2 linked regions of the Homo sapiens genome follow. The protein of the gene in region 1 interacts with the protein of each later gene in a pairwise test. Each region holds a gene or a part of one and is shown on either strand. Other genes may lie near its edges.

Region 1 (3,817 bases):
TCTAATAAAAAGTAACTTCTGTTTTTCAAGCTCTTTTCTTGCTCTGTTCCTTATGAAGTGTAGAGAGAGAGGAACCACGCTGATGTTTTCCAGTAACGTAAATATAGAACTTGGTACACAGGTCTGAAAAGTTTATTTAAGCAGTCTACAGTAATTCTTCGTAGGCTAATTTTGAATAAGAGCAGGAAAGAGGGTCAGCTTTTCACTTTGGAAGGTACTGGATTATTTGGCAGGTGGTTAGGTAGTACTTAGATTTGCTTAGATACCTGTAAAAGTGAGATTGGTATGGGATAAAACGTTCTTGTGCTGCTTGCAAAAGTCTTTGGAATATTCTTTGGGATATTTTGGTGCTTAGGAAGTGCTTTTCAGGTTATATTAATATATGCTTAGTCTTCATGCTTTCAAGTCCTGTGGGACGTTAATGTTAGTCTTTTAAGTTGAGTCCTTTTTGGTTATATTAAGAGGTAGTTCTGATGTTTCAAAGGCCATCCAGAAATAGGAATGCCTGAACAGGAATTTCCAATTAAGTCGGTCAGAATCCTGAACAGAGGATATGATGAATATATTACGGTATAACTATTAGTGGTATCTGTCAGATGACTTTAATTTTAGGAATAGCATGATCACTGTGTATAATCTTATACAGAAGAGAACTGAATAATAGTTTATGTTCCTGAAACGGTCATAGGCATTTGAGTAAAATGCAGTATATAGATTTACTTGTTAATATTTTGCTTAAAGATGAATATTTAAAAAATGAAAAAGCATATTACTTATACAGGACAGTGGAAAGGTTGAGACCAAAAAGCTGGTACTTTTAGTGTCCTGTCTGTTTAGTTCTATTCTTATTTTTCATTTATGCAATGTTTCAAAAGTGTAAGATGCTTTGTGATTAAAGTGTGCGTGTATGTATGTGAATGCGTTTGTATGCATGTACATACAGTGTGTGCCTTTTAAGTGCATTTTTAAAATTAGTTGGTTTGTTACTTAAGATTTTTTTTTTTTTTTAACTGAAAGAGGAGCTTGTCTGATCTAAAATAGTTGCATGTAGCCTGGTGGCTAAGGAGAGCTCAGAAGATTTTGTATTTACATTCTTGGATCCGTATTAAAATAGTCCAGGCTTCCACTAGCTACTCTGACTTTCTCATATAAAAAGGTATAGTAGGGTTATGAGGATTTGTCCAAGCCATTTACTAGCTGGGTGACCTTGAAGTAATCACATTATTTCACTGATGCCTTTTTAAAAAATATGTAAAAATAGAGATAATTCTTAACTGAGTAGTGAGGATCAAATGATAATAGAAGGTACTTTATACACTGGTAAGCCTTAAATTTATGTTACTCCTCCTGTTTCCAGGCCTATTTCTATGTTAGACTATTTGGGTAAAACTTCTGGGCAGTGGGCTCCACCTTGCGACCTTATTTAGCTCAAGGATGTCAAAAAGACCACATTTTTATTATTTTATAGGTGAGGAAGCTGTTCCCTTCTTCTGTGTTTCCTTCCTTAGGGTCTTTGAAGTATCTTTATTTGTGGTAATCATAAATTTTATATACATTTCAGAGTGTGGTACAATCAAGGGTCAGAAGATCCAGGTTTTATATGCTGACCTGTTAATTGAGTAAACTGGTAAAAAAAAAAAAAAAAAAGGAGATAATCTTATATTTCACAGGATTGTTTTGTGAAGTGTCAAGTGAGATATCCATGAAAGGATACAAATAGTAGTCTCTTTGTTCCCATGGGTCTTCATTTATACTCGTAGCTGTTGGATGTGTGACTTTCCCACAGAGGTTTATTTTAGGAGCAAGAGCCAAATCTTCATTTTTTGAATGTCAGTATTGTAGGAATTTACTAAGTGAATAAATCTTGAAGAAGAGTGTGGATTAATAGAGAAAATTCACTAAAGTTTATTCAGTATTCAAGGTGTTGGATACCTTGTTGGCCCAGTTGGATTAAGCAAAATAACTATGGAGGCACCATTTGGCTGGTATAGAAGAAATTACATACTGAATAGGTTTTGGTGATTTATCTTACAGAAGGCTTAAAACAGGTGATTGTATAACTTGTAAAATATCTAGTCTGTATCATGAGTGTAAGAAAGATTTGAAAAAATGTGATTTCAATTTTTATATGGTTGTAGGGGAGTAAAAGGGTATTTAAACCCTACTTGTGCCAACTTAAAGTTGTCTTTTCCTCTTTTTTCTCCTCCTTGTTTGAAATTGATGAATGGAATTAAGTGGAAGTAAAAGTTAGAGAATATGAGCTGAGGCTGTACTTCAGTGGATGCTTCTTCAGATAAGGGTTTACGAAATTTTCCTGACTAGAAACAAGAAGGGGACTCCTTGTCAGACCTGGGATATAGTCCTTGACTTGCCCCTAACATGCTCCCCCAACCCCCTTGTCCCCCACTATTCCTGTGTGTTCCAGTGCACTTTACATGTTTTTTTGCTATTGAATTTATTCTGTCTTATAATTATGTGGTTCTTTTTGTCCCTCTTCATTGTAAGTTCCTTGAAGAGGATTTTTATATTCATGGTACTAGCAAAATACTAGCATTTTTATATTCATGGTACTAGCAAAATACTTGGCAAATAGTGGGTGGCCTGTGTAAGTGTTTGACTTTGACTGCGTTGCTCTTTTATAGAATCTGTTCACTAGCAACCCCATTTTTGGAATACCTGTAGTGTTCTAGAAGCTCTACTGGATATTGTAGGGTGTAGTGTAGTATTTGGTGGATACTAAATGTTAATAACATAATTTAATTAAGCAAGCAAAAACTCACATCCTGACTCCAGGAATAGGTGTAGAATTTGGTTTTCTTTTGTTCTTTTTTAAATTTTAATTTAATTTTTATTTTGTAGAGATGTGGTCTTGCTATGTGGACCAGGCAGGTTTTGAACTCACCTGGCCAGAATTTATTTCTTATTCTAACACAGAGCTTGGAAGTGGCTACAAGTGTCAGGATTGTCTAAATTCTAAGCCCTTTGGAGGATACCATGTTTACTTGACTTTATGATTAAATTCTGAATTACTGAAAGGGCCATCAATCTGTTTTTAAGTCTCTTTGACCAAAGAACTTGTAAATATTTTCAAGTAACAAGCATATGCATCTCTATTGGTTTAATTTATTTTTACCCCATTTAGTGCTTGCTTTGTTTTGATTCTTTTTTTGTTTTTGTTTTTTGAGATGGAGTCTCACTCTTGCCCAGGCTGGAGTGCAGTGGCATGATCTCCACTCACTGCAGCTTCCGCCTCCTGGGTTCAAGCAATTCTCTAGCCTCAGCCTCCCGAGTAGCTGAGACTACAGGCGCGTGCCACCACGCCCAGCTAATTTTTTGTATTTTTAGTAGAGATGGGGTTTCAACATGTTAGCCAGGATGGTCTTGATCTCCTGACCTCGTGATGCGCCCACCTCAGCCTCCCAAAGTGCTGGGATTATAGGCGTGAGTCACCGCCCCCAGCCCTGCTTTGTTTTGATTCTTATCAGTGCTTCAAATACCAATCACTGGGTAGTGTATGATACTCTTGAAGTATTAGTGTGGGCTGCCATAACAAAATACCATAGACTGGGTGGCTTAAACAACAGAAAATTATTTTTTATTTTTATTTATTAATTTTTTTGAGACAGTCTCACTGTGTCGCCCAGGCTGGATTGCAGCGGCTCGATCTCAGGTTACTGCAAGCTCTGCCTCCCGGGTTCACACCATTCTCCTGCCTCAGCCTCCTGAGCAGGTGGGACCACAGGCGCCTGCCACCACGCCTGGCTAATTTTTTTGTATTTTTTAGTTGAGATGGGGTTTCACTGTGTTAGCCAGGATG
Region 2 (3,758 bases), on another chromosome or scaffold:
AGCCCAATTGCAAAACACAGAAAAGCAGGAAGACAGTCACTCTGGACAGAAAGGGATGGCAGTCTTGGGAAAGTCAGAAGGAGCCACGACTACCCCTCCGGGGCCTGGGGCCCCAGACCTCCTGGCCGCCATGCAGAGTCTGCGGATGGCAACAGCTGAAGCCCAGAGCCTGCACCAGCAAGTTCTGAACAAGCACAAGCAGGGCCCCACCCCAACAGCCACTTCCAACCCCATCCAGGACGGTCTTCGGAAAGCTGGGGCTACCCAAAGCAACATAAGGCCTGGGGGTGGAAGTGATCCCCGGATCCCAGCAGCCCCCAGAAAGGTCAGTAGGGAAGAGCAAGCACTACCCAGAGGGCTGCCTGGGGGGTGGGTGACAATTCAGGATGGCATCTACACCGCTCATCCCGTGAGGACCTTTGACCCACCTGGGGGTGTCCAGCTTTCTCAGAGGGAACCCCAGTCAAGGCACAGGGAGACTGCCCTCTCAGTCCAGGCTCCCCGCCCACTCCAGGGAGGCCCAGGTCAGAGTACTGGGCCAGGGCGGGAGGAGCCTGGGGGCTGCACACAGATGGCCTGGGGGCCACCAGGGAAGGCGATGGCAGAAGTCTGCCCAGGGGGCCTCCAAGCTGCAGAGACCACCCTGAAGACTGCCCCTCTAGGCCGCCACATTCTGGCCTCTGGGCCCCAAGCTGCAGGTGCCAGCCCGCACCCCCATAATGCCTTTGTTCCTCCTCCTCCTACTCTCCCAGCTGCTGTGACAGGACCTGACTTTCCAGCTGGAGCCCACCGTGCTGAGGACTCCATCCAGCAAGCCTCTGAGCCCCTGAAGGACCCCCTTCTTCACTCCCACAGCAGCCCTGCTGGCCAGAGAACCCCTGGAGGGTCACAGACAAAGACCCCAAAACTGGACCCCACCATGCCCCCAAAGAAGAAGCCGCAGCTGCCCCCTAAACCTGCACACCTAACCCAGAGCCACCCTCCTCAGAGGCTGCCCAAGCCCTTGCCTCTATCTCCCAGCTTTTCCTCGGAGGTGGGGCAAAGAGAACACCAACGAGGTGAGAGAGATACAGCCATCCCTCAGCCAGCCAAGGTTCCCACTACTGTAGACCAGGGCCACATACCTCTGGCCAGATGTCCCAGTGGACATAGCCAGCCCAGCTTACAACATGGCCTCAGCACCACGGCCCCCAGGCCCACCAAGAATCAGGCTACAGGCAGCAATGCCCAGAGCTCTGAGCCCCCCAAGCTCAATGCCCTCAACCATGATCCCACCTCACCACAGTGGGGCCCCGGCCCCTCAGGAGAGCAGCCCATGGAAGGTTCCCACCAAGGGGCCCCTGAGAGCCCTGACAGTCTGCAAAGAAACCAGAAAGAGCTCCAGGGCCTCCTGAACCAGGTGCAAGCCCTGGAGAAGGAGGCCGCAAGCAGTGTGGACGTGCAGGCCCTGCGGAGGCTCTTTGAGGCCGTGCCCCAGCTGGGAGGGGCTGCTCCTCAGGCTCCTGCTGCCCACCAAAAGCCCGAGGCCTCAGTGGAGCAGGCCTTTGGGGAGCTGACACGGGTCAGCACGGAAGTTGCTCAACTGAAGGAACAGACCTTGGCAAGGCTGCTGGACATTGAAGAGGCTGTGCACAAGGCACTCAGCTCCATGTCTAGCCTCCAGCCTGAGGCCAGTGCCAGAGGCCATTTCCAGGGACCTCCAAAAGACCACAGTGCCCACAAGATCAGTGTCACAGTCAGCAGTAGCGCCAGGCCCAGTGGCTCAGGCCAGGAGGTCGGAGGTCAAACTGCAGTCAAGAACCAAGCCAAGGTTGAATGCCACACTGAGGCCCAGAGTCAAGTCAAGATCAGAAATCACACAGAGGCCAGAGGTCACACAGCCTCAACTGCCCCTTCCACCAGGAGGCAGGAGACATCAAGAGAGTATTTGTGCCCTCCTCGGGTTTTACCTTCCAGCCGAGATTCTCCCTCCTCCCCAACATTTATCTCCATCCAGTCGGCCACAAGGAAGCCTCTAGAGACTCCCAGCTTTAAGGGCAACCCTGATGTCTCAGTGAAAAGCACACAACTGGCTCAGGACATAGGCCAGGCCCTGCTCCACCAGAAAGGTGTCCAAGACAAAACTGGGAAGAAGGACATCACCCAGTGCTCTGTGCAACCTGAACCTGCCCCTCCCTCAGCCAGTCCCCTGCCCAGAGGGTGGCAAAAGAGTGTTCTGGAGCTACAGACGGGGCCAGGGAGCTCACAACACTATGGAGCCATGAGAACCGTGACTGAACAGTATGAGGAGGTGGACCAGTTTGGGAACACAGTCCTCATGTCTTCCACCACAGTCACCGAGCAGGCAGAGCCACCCAGGAACCCAGGCTCCCACCTCGGGCTCCACGCCTCCCCCTTGCTGAGGCAGTTCCTGCACAGCCCAGCTGGGTTCAGCAGTGACCTGACAGAAGCTGAGACGGTGCAGGTGTCCTGCAGCTACTCCCAGCCAGCTGCCCAGTGAGGCCCACCGCCTCCCACCACACCTGCCACCTGTTCCTGGCCTCCACTGCCCCAGGACTGAAGTGGGTACCTGCCTCCTGTACACTGGAGCAAGGACCAAGAGGAAATGGCATCTTCAGAGGATTACTGTGGGCCATTTCCCTTTCGCAGTTCTTTCAATAGGCCCAGTTCTTCCAAATGGAAAAAGAAAGGTCTGGAAGAGGCCCACAGAGTTGCACAGGCGTGGGGGTAGGATGGGGGCTCCCAGCTGCTTGTGGAGGATGTAATATATACAGACACACACATGTTTTTCACACAGGCCTGGCCCACGCATCGACATGTGTGAATTTGCACACCACTGCCTGAATTGGAGCCCCCCAGAGTGTCCCTCTACCCAGAGTTTTTATTTCTTTAATTAGTCTGAGTGTTCCCAGCCATCTGCTCCTTAATCCCTGGAGAGGAACAGAGCCAACTGGACACAGCGTTGGTCTCTGTTTGGAATCACTGTGAGGTCTCCAGAAGGACCTGGCCGCCAGCCCCTTCATCACCATCTCCATCATTCAGCTGGTCATCTGGTGGCCCAAAGGTCACCCAAAGAGTCAGCAATCAGCATGTCCCTAGAAGCCAAATGCACTGCCTTTCTCTGTCCCCATGACTGTCCCCCACTCTGCACCCCAAATGGGAAGCATACGGTCTGAATAAATCCAAGTTTTATTCTCTACTCTGTGCATGTCTGACTGTGTGTACATCTGTTCCAGTATGTGTTCCTACTGCAGGGGGAGAAAACAGCCACAACCTCCAGGTGCCTCGTCTTCCTAGCAACAGCAGTGTGGGAAGGCTCTAAAAGCCACCCCTTCTCCACCATCTTGGCTGGCAACCAGAAATGCCCTGCCCACACTTCTATTCTCCTTGCCCCTATCCCCATCACACACACACACACACACACACACACACACACACACACACACACAGTGCTGCCCTCTCTATCTCGACCTCGCCTCCTGGATGTTCTTGAATACCATCCTGGAGGGGTTCTTAGAATCCTGCCCCAGAGCTGGAGAGCAGCCCAGTCAGGACTGGGAAGCAGGAGGAACTCACGCCAGGAGAATTCCTGTGCCCAAGATGGCTGGATCACTTCTGCCTGTTCAGCCCAGGTGTTGTGTGCCAAGCAGTGGTTCCTGAGAAATGAAGTGCTCAGATCCTGGCCTGGAAAGTCAGGTTGTTTTGGTGAAGGGCCCTTTTCATGCTGTCTTTCAAAAATCACTAAGCATCTTCTGTAT

Evidence for each region.
Region 2: the proteins of ENAH (region 1) and XIRP1 interact in a two-hybrid assay, tested with the Homo sapiens proteins (one study listed by BioGRID).

Annotation. Positions count from the first base shown.
Region 1 is NC_000001.11:225,646,589-225,650,405, reverse strand, and holds part of ENAH (protein enabled homolog), read left to right. Parts: intron 1-3,817. UniProt on the Homo sapiens protein: Ena/VASP proteins are actin-associated proteins involved in a range of processes dependent on cytoskeleton remodeling and cell polarity such as axon guidance and lamellipodial and filopodial dynamics in migrating cells.
Region 2 is NC_000003.12:39,182,656-39,186,413, reverse strand, and holds the end of XIRP1 (xin actin-binding repeat-containing protein 1), read left to right. Parts: coding exon 1-2,500; 3' UTR 2,501-3,199; downstream 3,200-3,758. UniProt on the Homo sapiens protein: Protects actin filaments from depolymerization. Required for correct cardiac intercalated disk ultrastructure via maintenance of cell-cell adhesion stability, and as a result maintains cardiac organ morphology, conductance and heart beat rhythm.